Regions from separate parts of the Homo sapiens genome. Here region 1 is linked to region 2. Evidence: fine-mapped expression QTL. A gene starts in region 2. The other region holds a variant in brackets. All regions are shown on one strand. Distances are from middle to middle. Region 1 has its middle 26 kb from the start of TMCC1-DT. Region 2 holds the start of TMCC1 (transmembrane and coiled-coil domain family 1).

Region 1 (9,108 bases), 26 kb after region 2:
TGCAGAGAGCCAATCACAGAAGACCACACGTTGTATGATTCCATTTACATAAGATGTTCAGAACAGCCAAATCCATAAAGACACAAAGTAGATCAGTGGTTGCTCAAACCTGGGACAGAGCGCACACACGCGCACACGTGTGTGTTAAAAACAACAACAGAAATCAGCTAGAGGTGCATGGTGGCTGCCCTTAGACCTGGCCCGTGCACTCGTTTGCCACAGTCTCCACCATGCCCTGTTACTCCCCGACACTGCACCTAGGGGCCAGGTCCGTTTAGCACAGCACTTCCATCTGTGTTCCTCACACCCTGCTGCTTCCCCTCACCGACTTCACACCTGTCCTGCCCCAGAGGAAGTTAATTTGGTGATGGCCTATGTGAAGACAGTCAGTAGGTGGTTCCCGCCTGGAATCCCAGCACTTTGGGAGGCCAAGACGGGAGGATCACTTGAGCCCACGGGTTTAAGACCAGCCTGGGCAACATGGCAAAACCCTGTCTCTATAAAAAATACAAAACATTAGCCAGGTGTGGTGGCATGAGCCTGTAGTCCCAGCTTCTCAGGAGGCTGAGGTGGGAGAATCACTGGAGCCTGGGAGGTTGAAGCTGCAGTTAGCTATGATCGTGCCACTGCATTCCAGCCTGGGTGACAGAGCAAGATCCTGTCTCACAAAAAAAAAAAAAAAAAAAAAAGGAAAGCAAGGGTGAGTCAATGACAAGAAGGTGTGCAGTGTGGGTGACAAAAACAAGGGGGGAGTCTGCAAGGGGGAGCAGCTTGAGGGGAGCAGAGACTTCAAGGGGAGGAAGCCTGAGTGACTCAGCAATCATTGGGGGACATTAGGGCAGAGGGAGGAAGTACAGGCCGGGTGCGGTGGCTCACGCCTGTAATCCCAGCACTTTGGGAGGCTGAGGCAGGCAGATGACTTGAAGTCAAAAGTTCGAGACCAGCCTGGCCAACATGGTGAAACCCCATCTCTACTAAAAATACAAAAAATGAGCTGGGCGTGGTGGTGCACGCCTGTAATTCCAGCTACTCAGGAGTCTGAGGCAGGAGAATAGCTTGGCCCCAGGAAGTGGAAGTTGCAGTGAGCCAAGATCACACCATTGCACTCCAGCCTGCATGACAGAGTGAGACTCTGTCTTGAAAACAACAACAACAACAAAAAAAAAAACAAAAGAAGGAAGAAGTGCAGGATCCTGGGTGGAACATGTCGGGGTATTCAGGCACCAGGCAGGAGGCCATGACACCCCCCATTCCCCACCAAGGGATTCCTGGTGCCAGTGAGGGCTGAGCCATCAGGGACAGGGACAGGTGCACCCCTTCAGTGGCCATGTCCCTCCAGGCCGGCCTCCCCAGTGCTGCCCCCATGGGCCCCGCCTCTTCCAAAGCTTGCACCCCAGGAGACAATAGAAGCACCTCATCCTGGCATTTAGGGACCCTGGGAATCTGGCCCCACCTTATCCTTCCAGCCTGTACCTGCTGCCTCCGCTTATTCAAGACCTAAGTTTCCTGGTGGCCGTGCCCCCCATGGGGTGGCTGTCATCCAGGCAGGGGTATTCCTGGGGAGCCCTTCCCTTCCCTACCTCCAATGCACCTACAGGGCCCCTACTATTAATAGCAGCACCTCTGCCTGGGGCTCCCTGAGAGGCTGGGGTGGGAGAGGGGTGGTCCAGCAGGCAGTAATCAATGTCCCCAAATGGTGGCAAGTGTGTGTGAATATGTGTGCCGGTGTCTGTGTGTGTGTGTGTGTGTGTGTGTGTGTGTGTGTCTGTTTGTGTTTGTGTGTGTGTGTGGTGGGAGTTTCTGCACTGTGATAGGAGGAAAGCACAAGTGGTTCTGGGATCCAGGGCAGAAGGGGCTCCTCTGTGTCCAGGGCTCAGGGATGCTCCCCAGAGTACCGGATATCTCAGCTAGGACTGAAGGGACAGGAAGTCACTCAGTGCAGGAGAGTAAGGGGGGAACTCTAGGCAGTGGGGACGGTGTGTAGGAAACATGACGGTGTGGAAAATAAAAAGTTCCTCTTCAAAGTTTCCCTTCTTGTTAAAGAATAAATAATAAATGTTAAAAGTAATAGTTTCTTTTAAAGACTAACTTCCTCTTCCTTCCTTATTTGGAAATGTTATTACTTTTCTAAGACCTTTTGCAAGCAACTTCCTCTTTTCCTTTTGTTCTCCATTGCCTTTACCTATTTAGGAAAGTTTTAAGTTGTTAGCCAATTGAGTTTAGCTTAGATTGTGAGGTCCGTCTCCAAGCAACGAAGAGAGGACACAGCAGTAAGGACCCAGTGTGTAAGGGATAAATATTCCTGCCTTTCTTTATTCATCGTGCTCTTGTGGCAAAATTGCTGATGGGCAGCATCCTTTCTGCAGAAAGTAAAATTGCCTTGCTGAGAAAACTTTTTGTCTGAATGCTAATTTTTCCTTGTGGCACCAAGGAACAAGCATTTTGTTTTCAAGAATCACGTGACCCACCTGGGCACATGGGGTGGTCTGAAAGGCAGGGCTGTGGGGCTGCCCAGGTGAGCCCTGGTGGACAAGGAGAAGGGCTTCCCTCTGAAGCTCTCAGGGCCACCAGCTGGGTGGTGGAGCCCAGAGGTGGCTTTCCCTTGGATCCCTTTGGGAGCCTGAATGGAGGGGTGTGGGTGGGGGAGACTGGAGGCAGTGAGGCTGGTGTGGTGGTAAAGTTCAGTTGAGCCCACTCCCACGTCAGGAGCAGAGTCAGGGTTTGAAGGCTGTGGCCCAGCAAGGGGGCTCAGAACTATTCCACAGTGCCCACGGCCCTCAGAATACAGGCTCAGCTTCTGTCCTGGGACTCGAGCTCTCCCAACCTGGCCCCAGTCCTACCTTCAGACTAGCACATCACTCCAGCAAGACACCCTCGGTCATCCCTGAGCTTTTGCAGAGGCTACCCTCCTGCCCTTGTCCCTACTTACTTAGGCGACCTCTCCTCACACTGCAGGGCTCAGCACACTGGCCTCCAGAAAGCCTTGCTTCATCCCCCACCCAGCACTGACCTGCAGACCATCAGGGTTGTCGGTTAAAGGACCAAAGTCCGGACAGGAGGAAGAGGTTTTGACATCTAGCGCACAGCAGGGTGACCAGAGTCAATGAGAGTGTGTTGCATTTTGCAAAACAACTGAGAGAGTCCGTATCAAATGTCTCTCTGCATTTAGATTGGAGAGGATGAAGGCCCTGAGGTCCAAGAACATGGAAACCTGACAGTGGACGCCAACAGCTGTGGAGAGAAGCCGGGCGACAGCTGTGGAGAGAAGCCGGGCGATATGCTCACGCTTCCGTGTGCCCAGCAATCCTGCTTTATCTTTTTAAATAAAGGTGATTCCTGATAACACTACCGTTTCTTGCAAATTTTGTAGTAGCATTGGAAAGGTGGCAGATGAGTCACAGGCAATCTGCTGCTTTGCGCCCTCCCTGCACAGAATGGGGGCTGTGCACACCCTAGTTTAGGCAGTATGCAGTCATGTGATCCTCTCAGTTACTCAGAAAAACTGAAAGGAAAAGAGACCTCAGAGAAGTATCAGGATGACCCCACCCACAGAAAATCATTACCAGTGGCTCTGAAGGGCTGAGGCTCTGAGCAGGTGCAAGGCAGAGTCCCACACATTGTGCATGGCCTCCCCACACTCACACTGCCCAGTGAGCATTTTCAGAAGGACCAGCGGCCCCTTCAGGTCTCGTCTGACTGTGTTAATCATGCTGAGAGGTCTCCAGGAGGATCCTGAAGTCCTGGGAACCAGACTGTGCTGGGGTTAGAGTGGCATGGGGTCAGAGTGGCTCCCATCAGGGAGCTTCCTCATGTGTTATTAAGAAGTTTGAGGGAGGTCCAGAAGGCCCTGCCCTTGTGCATGGCCGGTGGCTCAGTGTGCACAGCCTAGAACATGCTGTGACCCTGCCCACTACTGATGGTGGCCAGGGACTGTCCTGGAGTTCCACTGGTCAAATACGATTCTCCTTCCCCAATAAAGAGCAGGACCAGGAAGCAAGAAGTGACCTGGGGAGAGGGTGGGAGTGCTGTGGGGCTCCTTGTCTCCCCAGTGTGCTGTTGTCCATAAAATCCACTTTGGGGTTAAGGGTCCCCCAGGTGTGAATACTGAAGAAAGAAGAAAGAAAAAAAGAAAGAAAGAAAGAAAGAGAGAAAGAGAGAGAGGGAGGGAGGGAAAGGAGGGAAGGAGGGAGGGACGGAGGGTGGGAGGGAGGGAGGGAAAGAAACAGAGAGAGAGAAAGAAAATAAAAGAAAGGAAAAGGAAAAAGAAGGAAAGGAAGGTAAGGAAAAGGGAAAGGGGGTAAGGAGGAAAGGCAGAAAAGAAGCTGATCTTTCTCTTTCCTTCTTTCTTTCCTTTCTTCCTCCCTCCCTCCCTTCTCTCCTTCCTTCCTTCTCTCTCTCTCTCTCTCTCTCCTTCTCTTTCTCTCTCTCCCTCTCTCTTAGAACAAGAATTCAAGGGGAGCGCCACGAAGAGAGATTTCACAGAGAAAGTGAATTTAGTATTAAACAGGTTATAATTAAGCTAAGAGGCTACAATTAGGACTCTTAGTAATGAGGGGGAATCCATATGCTTGTTATGTCAAAAATGTAAGTAAGCCAATTACATATTCTAGTACAATAGATCTGTGCTAGAAAGTCAGACCAAACATGAGACCAATTAAGATGAGGCATGACTTTAAACATATAATGGATGATAAATCTAAAAACCCATTTTCACAGGAAACAGTTTGATGCAGGGCTGG[T/A]ATGGAGTCATTGTGTCCAGTTTTATGTCTTGGATCCATAGGGGGAAAGTTACGTAATCATATTAACCTAAATGCTAGTTATTTATTTTACTTTTCTTATTTATTTTACTTTTCTGAATCAGCACACAAAGCATGAAAAGCTTAATTGTATTTACAGAAAATATAAAAATAAAACCATTTAAACAAGCTAGAGTTGACAGAATTTGGACAATAGGTGGGAAAAGGCCATGTAAAGTTATCAGCGGGGTCTTCGCTCATACCAGCCTGAACGCACCCGATCTTGTCGGATACAGCTGTCAGAGGCTATGGGACTTAGGAGTGGTACGCAGATGTCATTTCCCCGTGATAGCTCCCGAAATAGAGCTGAGAAGACAGGTACAGAGTTATAAAGGTGACCTCTAAATGAAGTTTGCTACAGGAGATGAGAAACAGTTACAATGAGTGTAGCCAGGGCATGGTACAAGTGAGCTAATTGCTCAACTTTTATGAAATTACAAATCTAGAAGTAGGGGGCTTACTCACATTTAGAGTTTTGAATAACTGCCAGAAAAATTAAAAACAGAAATGATTGAAAATATTTAGTGTGTTTCAGCCAGGCGTGGTGGCTCACATCTGTAATCCTAGCATTTTGGGAGGCTGAGACGGGTGGATTGCCTAAGCTCAGGAGTTCGAGACCAGCCTGGGCAACATGGTGAAACCTCGTCTCTACTAAAATACAAATAATTAGCTGGGCGTAGCAGCATGCGCCTGTAGTCCCAGCTACTCGGGAGGCTGAGGCAGGAGAATGGCTTCAACCCATGAGGTGGTGGTTTCAGTGAGCTGAGATAGTGCCACTGCATTCCAGCCTGGACAACAGAGTGAGACCCTGTCTCAAAAAAAATAATAATAAAATAAAAATATTTAGCGTGTTTCACGGAATGGGTGCTTCATACGGGTGCTGGATGAGTCCTCCTGGGGAGGTGGTGTTGGAGCAGAGCCCTGCAGGAAGCGTGGGAGTTAGCCCCGTGGCGCGCTCTGGGAACAGTGAGGGCCACTTTCGTCCCACAGCCAAGTGCAGGGTGTGTTTCAGGTCAGCAAGGAGTGAGGTTGGTCTAGGAGGAGCCAGCGGGAGAGCAATAAGAAACAAGGTTAGGAGAGCGGCTGGGGGCCAGCTTTTGGGTTTTATTCTGCATGTGATGGAAAACAAGGGAAGCTGAGTGGGCTGGGGAGTCACAGGATGTGGCTGCTGATGGCAGAACAAGGAGAAGACGGCTGGGTGCAGTGGCTCACGCCTGTAATCCCAGCGCTCTCGGAGGCCGAGGCAGGAGGATTGCTTGAGCCAAGAGTCCAAGATCAGCCTGGGTAACATGGCAAAACCCGCCTCTACTAAAAATACAAAAAATTAGCTGGGTGTGGTGGTGCACGCCTGTAGTCCTGGCTACTCAGAAGGCTGTGAGACAGGAGGATCACTTGAGCCCTGGAGGTGGAGGCTGCAGTGAGCTGAGACAGGTTCTTTCAGATTGGCATACATGTTAAATACAGGTTAGCATCCTAAATCTGAGAAGTGTGAAATCCAAAATGTGCCAAAATTTAAAACTTTTTGAGCACCTACATAACACTCAGAGGAAATGCTCTATTTGAGCATTTGGGATTTTGTATATTTAGATTTGGGATGCTCAACTGGTAATTATATATAATACGAATATTCCAAAAAAAAAAAAATTCAAAACACTTATGGTGTCAATCATTTTATAGATAAGGGGTACTCAAACTTCATGAATAATTTCCAGCATCAGTGAGGATGTAAGCCTGTGGGGTAATACCCACTCCCCAAAACTCTTCGTGAGCATATGGATTAGCGTAATTTCTCAGAGGGAATTGGGCAGTATCTATCTAGTATAAAAATTTCATATTTCATGAATCTCCATTTCTAGTAGTTTGTTATGTAAAATACTTGCACAATTAGAGGAAATATAAGCACAGATTGTCTATATAGCAATGTTCCTCTTTTTTTTTTTTTTTTTGAGATGGAGTTTCACTCTTGTCACCCAGGCTGGAGTGCAATGGCCGGATCTTGGCTCACTGCAATCTCTGCCTCCCAGGTTCAAGCCATTCTCCTGCCTCAGCCTCCCGAGTAGCTGGGATTACATGCACCCACCACAATGCCCGGCTAATTTTTTGTATTTTTTGTAGAAATGGAGTTTCGCCATATTGGCCAGGCTGGTCTCGAACTCCTGACCTCAAGTGATCCACCCGCCTTGGCCTCCCAAAGTGCTGGGATTACAAGCGTGAGCCACTGCGCTCAGCCTGTAGCAATGTTTCTAATAGAATACAAAGTAGGGACAAACCGGCCTGGCGCAGAGGTGGAGCTTGCAGTGAGCCGAGATCGCGCCACTAAACTCCAGCCAGGGCGACAGAGCGAGACTCCATCTCAAGAAAAAAAAAAAAAGGAAAGTAGGGACAAACCAAATTTCCATCATCAGACAAATAGATACACAAATAATAGTGCACTGGATATCGTGCAGGTTTTAAACATCACAAAAGAGCTCTGCTTCTGACTTCCAGTGATACCATGCAAGTAGGTAACAGATGCTTTACATCGGGTTTTCACGTGGGAACTCTGTCTAGCTTGGTTTCCTGATTTTTCAGTGTCACTAAGTGCAGCTTTTGAAAAGCAATTCAATTTATGGCCAAATGAAACTTTAAAATGTGTCTTCTCAAAAGCCAGTTCTACTTGTTTCCTGTCAAATGTATCCGTTCACCTGCCTGCCCATCGGTCTGTCCCCCAATTAATGGATTTGAGTGCCGTCTACTGAGCTGACAATCAATTCCATAACTTCACTGTTCCCAGTTATATACTAAGTGTTCAGCAAATCATTCTTTTTTTTTTTTTTTTTGAGATGGAGTCTTGCTCTGTCGCCCAGGATAGAGTGCAGTGGTGCGATCTTGGCTCACTGCAATCTCCACCTCTCAGGTTCAAGCAATTCTCCTGCCTCAGCCTCCCAAGTAGCTGCGATTACAGGTTTACCCCACCACGCCCAGCTAATTTTTGTATTTTTAGTAGAGACAGGGTTTCGCCATGTTGGCCAGGCTGGTCTCGAACTCCTGACCTCAGGTGATCCGCCTGCCTGGGCCTCCCAAAGTGCTGGGATTAGAGGTGTGAGCCACTGCACCCCGCCAGCAAATCATTCTTGATTGTGATGATGCATTTATCTCCAATTTCCCCCCCAACCTTATTTGTTACTGTTCTCCCCAGTGCACCCACAATCCATCCATGCAGGTTTATTTACTTCCCCAAGCTTCCTGTTTTTACTCCTATTTGTACCTATTCTCCAAGACAAAAAAAGAAAAAAGAGAGAAACCTAGGATTTTAAAACTGTTTCAGCCTTCCTTCCTTCATGAAGATTTCTCCAACAGCAACTCCCATGGCTCTGTGTATACTCAGTACTTTTAAATAGTAGGTCTGTTTTAGCACTTGAGCTAAATTGTTATGTTTGTATTAATTCTTCAATTTGGAGGCATGGTCAATGCTTGCTATTCCTTAGGATTGTTTATATCAGTGTTCCTGTGTAAGACTGGCTTATAATTTTTATTATTCCTAATATTTGTTTGGTTTTGGTATTAAGATCCTAGTGTTCTCATAGAATTTATTGGAAAACAGCCCCTTATGTCAAAGTAGCCCCTTATGTCAATTTTATGGGAGTATTTCTTAAAAATTAGAATGAGTTTGGCATTTAGTCAATAATACCATTAGGGCCGTGTGTGTGTGTGTGTGTGTGTGTTTGTGTGTGTGCGTGTGTGTATGTGTGTCAGAGACACAGAGAGACAGAGGCACAGAGGCACTTCTTAACTATTGATCAAATTTATATAGTAGCTATTGAGCTACTTAGGATTTCCATTTCCTCATAAATCAATTTCTTAAAGTTATATTTTTAGGGTATTGTCTACTTGGTACACATTTTCAAATATATTGGCATCAGTTTTTCACAATATGCACTATTATCTTTTAAAATATTTTCTACCTCTATAGTTATGTCTTCCTGTTAATTTCAAATATGAGTTTTTATGATTTTTTTCTTAGTCTCATTGAAGATTTGTATATGATACTTTTCTCAAAGAACCAACTGTTAGCTCTGTTACTTCTCTCTATCATTATCTTTATTTTCTGTTTCATTCATTTACCTGTTTATCCTTCCATTTATGTTATTTGAGTTTATTCTCATTATATTTTCTAACATATGCTGGGTATTAGCTTCATTTTCATCTTTTCTGCTTTTCTAATGTAAATAAAGCTACAGATTGCTCTCGATGCTTTGTGTGGCATCTCACAATTTTTAATTTGCATACTTTTAATCATTTATTAGTATTATCTAATTTTCATTATGATTTA
Region 2 (9,108 bases):
ATGACACTTTAGCCCTGTGGTCTTCCTTCCAAAAGCATATTACATTCTTGGCCTAACCACAATGAAAACATCAGATAAATCCCAAAGAACGTTCTATAAAAATACCTGACCACGGCTGGACACAGTGACTCACGCCTGTAATCCCAGCACTTTAGGAAGCTGAGGAGGGTGGATTGCTTGGTTCTAGGAGTTCGAGACCAGCCTGGGCACCATGGTGAAACCCCATCTCTACAAAAAGTACAAAAATTAGCAGAGCATGATGGCACACATCTCTGGGCCCAGCTACTCCGGACATTGAGGTCAGAGGATCACTTGACCCCAGAGTGTTGAGGCTGCAGTGAGATGAGATCGTTCCACTGCACTCCAGTCTTGGTGACAGAGGGAGATCCTGTCTCAAAAAAACAAACAAACAAAACCTGACCAGTAATGTTCAAAACTGCCAAGGTCACTAAATACAGGGAAAGTCTGAGAAATTGTCACAACCAAGAGGAGCTAAGGAGACATAATTACTAAATGTAATGTGGTATTGTGGATGGGATCCTGGGATAGTGAAAGAACATTAAGGAAAAAACCTGTGGAAACCTGATAAAGTATGGTCTCTGTGATAATGTATCAATACTGGTTTATTAATACAGACAAATGATCACAGGGATGTAAGACGTTAATAATATGGGAAACAGTGTAGGATAGGCAGGAACTCTGCAGTATCTTTGCAATGTTTCTGTAAATCTAAATTTTAAAGTCTATTTTTAAAAATTATAACAAATTTATGATCAACGGCATCCCTGGAATTTTACTCAGTGCATCTAGGACACAAAAGATACTTAAAATATGGTCTTTGCCTTCAAGAAGCTTGTTGTCGCAGAGTGAAGACAAATGCTCATGAAACTAGTATAAAATACAAAAATAAGAAAAAATTAAATTGAAGAGTAAAGATAAAACTATATTAAGAATATAAAGAAGGTCTAGAATTATCAGGAAAGATTTGGTCAAGGAGATAAAACTTGAATTTGTACCTTAAAATATACTTCAGAGTAGCAAAGTTAAAAAAAAAAAAAAAGAATAAACTAAGCTCACAACAACCAGAAGGGTGAAGAAATAAGAAAAAGCTAACAGAAATTAAAATGGCTGGGGCATGGTGGCTCATGCTTATAAACCCAGCACTTTTGGAGGCCAAGGCAAGGGGGATCACTTGAGGCCAGGAGTTTGCCTAGGCAACATATGAGACCCCATCTCTCTCCATAATATCTTTAAAAAAAAGAAAAATAAAAACATTCAGCTCTGAAAAGTGAAGACTTAAATAGGAGACATAATAGCAGTGCTCAAACACTTTAAGGGTCATGTGGCAGAACTAACAGAGTTACACCTATACCCATTTAACTTACAAGCCAACCTCTGGCAAAATGTGACCAATGCTCAAGGACAAAGAGAGTGACAGCTGTTCAGTGGAGCCACAACAGGAAATGCCAATATGGATAGACAGGAAGCAGGTGGCTAAGTTCTCTACAACTTTTCAAAGGACAGTATGTATGTGAGCCCAAAGAAGTAAAAATCAGATTCTAATTCTGCAAATGTTTACTGACTATCTTAAGTGCCGGGCTCTTTCAAATACATTATCTTGTTTAATATTCGCAACACATCTATGAGCATGTATTAATGTAATAGAGGCTTAACATAAAAATAGAATTAAACCCTGCATGGAAACAGGAACATGTCAAAATTCTATACCATCCCCCACTCTCTGATAGGGACTCCAGAGCAGTTTTAAAAAGCCAAACAGTCTGAAGGCCCAGATACCTATATAACAATTTATTTCCTCTTGCTCTTTCCCTCAGTCAAGCTCTGTGGCTCTCAGCCTTTCATATTCGTAAGAATTTTATACAACTATACATACAAAAACATGCAGACCATACTTTTTGAGCAATTTATGGAATTTTCCAGAAGAGTTTTCATCTTACATGATTTTTGCCTCATGCACTAACTTGAGGACCTAACCCTGGGATGAGGTGCAACTCCACTGCAGTCTTACTCCATGGGTACTGTAAGGCAGGATCAGGAAGAGGAAACGGAAAGGTACCATCCTATTACATGAAGAACAACATTCTAACAAAGACATAAAATGTATTTACATAAAATGTAAGAATGACATGTTATGTGGGGAAGTTCAACACTGGAAAACAAGAGCAGCTCATCTGCACCTGCAGACCTTTGCACTCACTGTTTCATTTACCAGGAAAGCGCTACCATTTTTCAGGTCACAACTCAAATACCTTCTCCTTAATGAGGCCTCCTCTCACTAAGTAACCCTCCACCCACCTTTCAGTCATTCACTTGTCACATCAGCTTGTTTTATTTTCTTCATAATTCATATTAGGGGTCAGCAAACATTTTCTATAAAAGGCCAGACTATAATCTATAGGCCAAATCCACCTTGCCCCGTTTTATATGGCTAAGAATGGTTTTACATTTTTAAATGGCTAGGGGAAAATATTTTTAAAAACTCATTAATATTCTGTGACATGTGAAAATTTTATGAAATTCAAATTTCAGTGTCCCAAGTTTAACTGGAATATAAACATATTTGTTCACGTACTGTCTGTGGCTGCTTTTGTACTAAAACAGAATTGAGTAGTTGCAAAAGAGATCATATGGCCCAAAAACCCTGGTATGTACTGTACTTCCTGGTCCTTTACCAAAAAAAGCTTACTAACCACTGATTTATATCATTATCTGAAATGATCCTATTTGCTTGTTTGTTGTATATTCCTCATTCCCATACATACAGAATAAAGCTTAATTAGGGAAGAGGCCTTGTCTGTTTTGTCCCAACAATGTAGCCCAGTACTTAGAAAACATCCTGGAACAAAGTAAGGGCTCAATAAACATTTGATGAATTAATGAATGATCCATAAATGCCACTCTGAGGAGCTTAAACCTAAGCCCTGAGCCATTATATGTTCTGCACATTTATGAGAGGCATAAGCAGTCTTGCAGAAAAGGGGAAATATTCTACTATCAAGAAGGCCCAGTTTAAAGTAATGGTGGTTGGTCACCAACTAGTCTAGGGCACTGGGGTTCTTCATCAAATTGTAGACTACAGGTCTTTTGTGCTCATAAAAGAGTCCTTCTGCAAGGTGTCCCAACACTGTCAGCGGTCTGTGCTTCTGTTTATCTTAAGATGCAAATGCTCTGAGAAATCTCATTCTTATACACAGTACACAGCACCTACACCATACCAAATCTTAATCAATGCTCATAATTATAACAGTTCTACATCACATGCTAATGAATTTTTAACGTCTAAAATTTTCCTATGCTGCTGATCAGCAATCTATAAGCAGCTCAAAACTCTTCAGAAATTAAAAGGTTACCACCCACAGACCAGAAGCAGCTTTTTAATCTTTCTACACTAGCCAGAGAGTGGGTGATTGCAAAAAAATACAAGCCAACTCTGTTGGTAGAGGACAGGGTTATTAAGTTAAAATCCCATCTATAAGCATCGTTTTGTCACATGACACTAGTAAAACTACCACCTACTCACAATTTGAGTTTCAATCTCCTAATATACAGAGAAAAAAATGTATCTACCTCCTGGAACAAATCAAAGTTTTGTTTTATTTTAAAGCAGCTATCTGATATTTATGCCCTGGATTTTTTTTTTTTAAGAACAGAATAAGCTAATTTAGGAATTCACACCTTTCGTAGAGATGCTTATGGTACAGGTACCTCTGACGGCTAGGCTCTACCAACACTAACGTGTAACGTGTCACAAAAGCCAACGGGCGTTGCGGGGGCCGGGGGTAGCCAACAGCTCAAGTGGGCTGCTTCACTCCGTGGCAGATTCACCTGGGGATTCCTCACCAAGAATGTTGTTAAGGGACGAACCAAACCAACCACAAATGATACCCCTTTACCGAGGCTGAAAAAGCAGAGATTCGCAAGCTATAAACGAATCTCTGGCCCTTTAGGGAAGGTGCAACTCGCTGCACCTCTTTCCCCTATCCTACAGGGGTTAACAGGGGGCATCCTGAGGCCGAGACCAAGCCCAGCCAGCTCCTCCTCACATCCCACCTCCCACTACATATTCTCCCCAGTACGCCGGGCTCCCTCCTCCCCTCGAAAGACAGTTCAAAATCAAAACAATAGGTGCAAAACTGGTTTCAGGTGGAAATGGCTGAGTCCTGGTGGCTAACTTCTGGGACGCCATGGCGATCGAGGGCTCCTAAAACCCCAGATTCCGACGGGAACCGGCTCCTAAACAGTCCCTCGGGCCTCGGCCCGACTTCTCACACGCCCCTCCCTCACCTCGGCCCTGGGATGCTGGGAAGGGAACGAGGCGAGGGGCTGGAGGGGAACCCCAGGTCAAAATGACAGCGGAATGAGCCGGGAAAGGAAAGAGGCCCCGTGGGATGCTGGGGGTCGAGTCCTAGGCCCGGGGCTTCAACCTCGAACGGGGGCGACGGCAGGTCCCAGCCCCGACAGGCCGCGAGCGGGAGGCCAGGCCCGCGTCCGCTGCGCCGCCAGGCCACGCTCCCTCACGACTGTCCCCACCCACCGCGGAGGGCCGTGAGGGGGCCGCGACCGCCGCCAGCGTCCGGGGCGGGGGCGCTCACTCACCGGCGGGGAGGGGAGGAGCAGCCGGCGTCTCCGCCAGCGCCGTCGCTCGAGCTCAAGCGCCTGCTCCTTCCACTGCGGCCGCCGCACCCGGTCCATCCCCCACAACCACCCCCCCCTCCCGACCCTCCCCCCGCGCCGCCTCAGCCGCCGCCGCCTCAGTCACCGCCACCGCCGCCGCCGCCTCAGCCCCGGCGCGGGAGGGCGAACCGGCGCGAGAGAGCGAGCGCGCGCGCGCCCCCGCCACAGCCGCCACCGCCCACAACCTCCGCCCCCGGCCGGCGGCGCACGCGCAAGGGAGCGGGCGGACGGGCGCGCGCACGCCGCAGGGGCGGGGATGGGCCCTGGAAGGCGTGGCCCCTCCCCTAGCCCGCCTTCCCACGCGGTCTCTGGGCTGGTTGAGCTGCGCCGCTGCAGGTAGTGCTGAGTTGCTCCAGGTAAGCTCCTCCTCTCAAAAAGCTCTAGGAACCGAGCCACCCTCGCCCTAGGAGCAACGCCCCTGAGTAATATGGGGTTTCGTCGGATTTCTGCCCGCCGCTCTGGATCACACGTTTGTTCTCCCTATTTGAGTCGCAAGGCCTTCCTTCATTCCACCTAGCAGGCTGCTTGGAAAAGGGCAGAGACTCATTACTTTGCACCAGGTATTACCACTGAAGGGATTGTAAGCAGCCACCAGCCCATCCCTTTATAATTCCCATTTTCCTAATTTATTTTATTTTTATTACTTATGTAATGAGGCTTCTTCCGTGTTCAAGGAGCTGGGAGTACCATATGGGGTCAACGGAGTCCCTGGTCTCATGAAGTTTGAGATCTGGTGGAGAAGGAAAACATTCATGGGAGAATCAGACAAAATTAAGTTTTCAATTAGTAAAAATCTTCTGAGAGGTATATGGTACTAAGAGAATCTTTATGGGGGAATTGATTTAGTTGAGGATGAAGAGGGTAGAATCTGAGGAATTGAGTTGGGAGGAGTTAGTTGCTCCAAGGGGTGAGGTCTTGGCATGGCCAGAATGGGGAGCGCTAAAGAATATTGAATGTGGAGTAGACTGCGAGTGTGGGAAGAGGTAGGCGAGAACAGGTGAGGATTGGGGACCTATTTATTTATTTATTTATTGAGACAGAGTCTCACTCTGTCACCCAGGTCACCCAGGCTGGAGTGCAATGGCTCGATCTCAGCTCACTGCAACCTCCGCCTCCTGGGTTCAAGCGATTCTCCTGTCTCAGCCTCCGGAGTAGCTGGACTACCAGCGCACGCCAGCGCACCTGGCTAATTTTTGTATTTTTAGTAGAGATGGGGTTTCGCCATCTTGGCCAGGCTGGTCTGGAACTCCTGACCTTGTGATCTGCCCGCCTCGGCCTCCCAAAGTGCTGGGATTGCAGGCATGAGCCACCACACCCGGCCGGATTTGGGACTTTAATCTGAGTGCTTGGTAGAAGCTATTCAGGTTTTTTTCAGCAGGGTTGCAGGGGAAATAACTTGATCATTATGTCTGTTTTTTGTTTTTGAGAGGCAGACTGGAGTGCAGTGGCGCGATCTCGGCTCCCTGCAATCTCTGCCTCCCGGGTTCAAGTGATTTTCCTGCCTCAGCCTCCCTAGTACCTGGGACTACAGGTGCACGCCACTGCACCCAGCTAATTTTTTTAGTATTTTTAGTAGAAACGGGGTTTCACCATGTTGGCCAGGATGGTCTGAATCTCCTGACTTCATGATCCACCCACCTCGGCCTCCCAAAGTGCTGGGATTACAGGTGTGAGCCACCTTGCCCCCAGCCCATTATGTCTGTTTTTAAGTTACTTAGATAGCAACGTGAAGAGTGGTCTGATGGGAGTCTCAAAGCTGGGGCCGGGAAGCCAGTTAGGAGGCCACTGGCCACATAGTCAAGGCAAAGTAGGAGGGTAGTGACAGAGAAGAGTGCTAATGTAGTGGTAAAATGGACAGGACTTGGCAATAAATTGAATGAGGAGTGAAGGAGAAGGAGGTGGCAAGGTTTACTTAGATTTGAGGTTGGTGGAGGATGCATTTATAGATTTCAGAAGCACTGAAGGAGCCACCTGAGGTAACTCAAAATGGATGATAAACCTAAATTTAAAAGCTAAACCTATAAAAGAAAATTTTAGAAGAAAACATAGAAAAAGTATTTGTGACCTTGGGATAGGCAAAGACTTCTTAGGACACAAAAAATATGAACCATAAAAAGTGATTCATGGCCTGGCTCACACCTGTAATCCCAGCACTTTGGGAGGCCAAGGCAGGCAGATCACTTGAGCTCAGGAGTTCAAGACCAGCCTGGGCAACATGGCAAAATGCTATCTCTACAAAAAATACAAAAGTTAGCTGGGCTTGTTGGCACGTACCTGCAGTCTCAGCTAACTTGTGGGGCTGAGGAAGGAGGATCACTTGAACCTGGGAGGCGGAGGTTGCAGTGAGCTGAGATGGCGCCACTGCACTCCAGCCTGAGTGACAGGGTGAGACCCTGTCTCAAAAAAAAAAAAAAAAAAAAGAAAGCAATTGATAAGTTGAACTCTATCAAAATTAAAAACTGGTACTCTTTGAGAGACAACATTAAGAAAATGAAAAGGCAAGCCACAGGTGGAGAGTTTGCAATAGAAAGCATTAGACAAAAGTCTTGTATCCAGAATACATAAAGAACTGTTATAAATGAGTAATAAGCCAGCCCAATAAACCAATGGGCAAAGGCTTTTTTTATATCTTGTAGATAGTTCACAAGATACAAAAATGGCCTATAAGCAATGAAGAGATTACCAACATCTTTAGTCAACTAGGGATTTTTCCATTTAAAACCACAACACTCTCATTAGGATAGCTAAAATTAAGACCGATGACCCAGCAATCACACTCCTACACATCTCCTTAACCATACTTGATCTCTAAAGGCTGACAATAACACACCAGGGACCCTGTAATCCCAGCACTTTGGGAGGCCAAGGCAAGAGGATCGCTTCAGCCCAGGAGTTCAAGACCAGCCTGGGCAACCTAATGAGACCCCATTTCTACAAAAAAAATTTTTTTTAATTAGCCAGTGTGGGAGTGTACACCTGTAGTCCTAGCTACTGGGGAGCCTGAGGCAGGAGGATCCCTTGAGCCCAGGAGTTCAAGGTTGCAGTGACCTATGATCGCACCACTGTACTCCGGCCTGGGTACCACAGCAAGACCATATCTCTTAAAAAAAAAAAGTCTTTGGCTGGGCGCAGTGGCTCACGCCTGTAATCCCAGCACTTTGGGAGGCCAATGTGGGCAGATCATGAGGTCAGGAGTTTGAGACCAGCTTGGCCAACATGGTGAAACCCCATCTCTACTAAAAATACAAAAATTAGCCGGATGTGGCAGCGTATGCCTCTAATCCCAGCTACTCAGGAGGCTGAGGCAGGAGAATCGCTTGAACTTGGGAGGCGGCGGTTGCAGTGAGCCAAGATCATGCCATTGCATTCAAGCCTGGGTGACAGAGTGAGACTATGTCTCAAAAAAAAAAAAAATTTAAAGACAATAACAAAGTCATACTTTCACTTAACATGATATAACTATCCTGCATACTATTGAAAACATAACAACACTTTTCCCAAGGGGATGCAAAGTCCTTGAGTGATGTTTCTTCTCCACCTTTGATGTCTTATAACTTAATACTGCAATATAAAGTTACCTATCATTAATACGTCTCCATCTTGTAGTAGCAACCGAATTTCCTGCTTAGTAATCAGGATTAGTCACCTCAGCCAGTAGAGGAACTTCCCACTTTACCTGTTGATTCAGAGGCATGAAAGACCCAAGGTGGCCAGGTGACCACCTCAACTCCCAATTCAATGGAAATGTTGTTGGGTCTCCTGGTGGAAGCATTCCTTCTTTTGGAACTAAGACCTCTTGGTCAGAAGAGCCTCTGGACGTTTCTACTTTCAGGAAAAATGAACAACCAAGTACACTCTTCAAAGTTCTGCCAACTGGGGGATTTTTTTTTCACCATTATTCTTCAGGGATGTCCCAGAAAGGGACACTAGTTTTATTTTCACTGGTGCCTGCATATTGTGCAGAACCATCATAAACCTGGGCTATGAACCACAACTGAGTTTTCCCTTCTTCAGTCAACTGGTCATAAGGAATGCCCCATGGCGCCATAGGTGCAGGCTGGGAGAGAGAAGGTAATGTAGCAGGAGTTGGGGCCATGGATATTTGGGCCACTTCCTCGTGCAACTTACCTATGCCTTCAGGGCCCATTTGAGCCCAATCTCATATATACCACTTCAATTTGATAATGGAGTGTTGCTGTGAGTGCACAACTTTATAGCTTGGTGGATCAGATAACACTTAGTTCATGATGAGCAGCTCAGGTCACATGGTAACTTGATGACCCACGGTTAACTGTTCAGTCTCTGCTTAGGCCCAGCAAGCCAAACGTTGTTTCTCAAGAGGACAGTACTCTTCTGCAGGGCTTTGCTCCAAAATCTTAAGGGTCTGCAGCGTGATTCACCTACAGTGGCCTG

What was found.
Region 1: its variant is fine-mapped to the expression of TMCC1 in whole blood (TOPMed, PIP above 0.99).

The regions. Positions count from the first base shown.
Region 1 is chr3:129,915,231-129,924,338 of GRCh38, forward strand. No RefSeq gene overlaps it. Among named protein-coding and RNA genes, the nearest start is that of TMCC1-DT, 26 kb to the left of the region's middle. The variant T/A (reference allele first, on the strand shown) is at 4,740.
Region 2 is chr3:129,888,877-129,897,984 of GRCh38, forward strand. It overlaps TMCC1 (transmembrane and coiled-coil domain family 1), which reads right to left and starts at 4,835. Exons shown (of 7, transcript NM_001017395.5): 1 at 4,618-4,835. It overlaps TMCC1-DT (TMCC1 divergent transcript), which reads left to right and starts at 4,995. Exons shown (of 3, transcript NR_037893.1): 1 at 4,995-5,051. RefSeq lists enhancers at 3,417-4,209, 4,210-5,001 and a silencer at 4,363-5,092.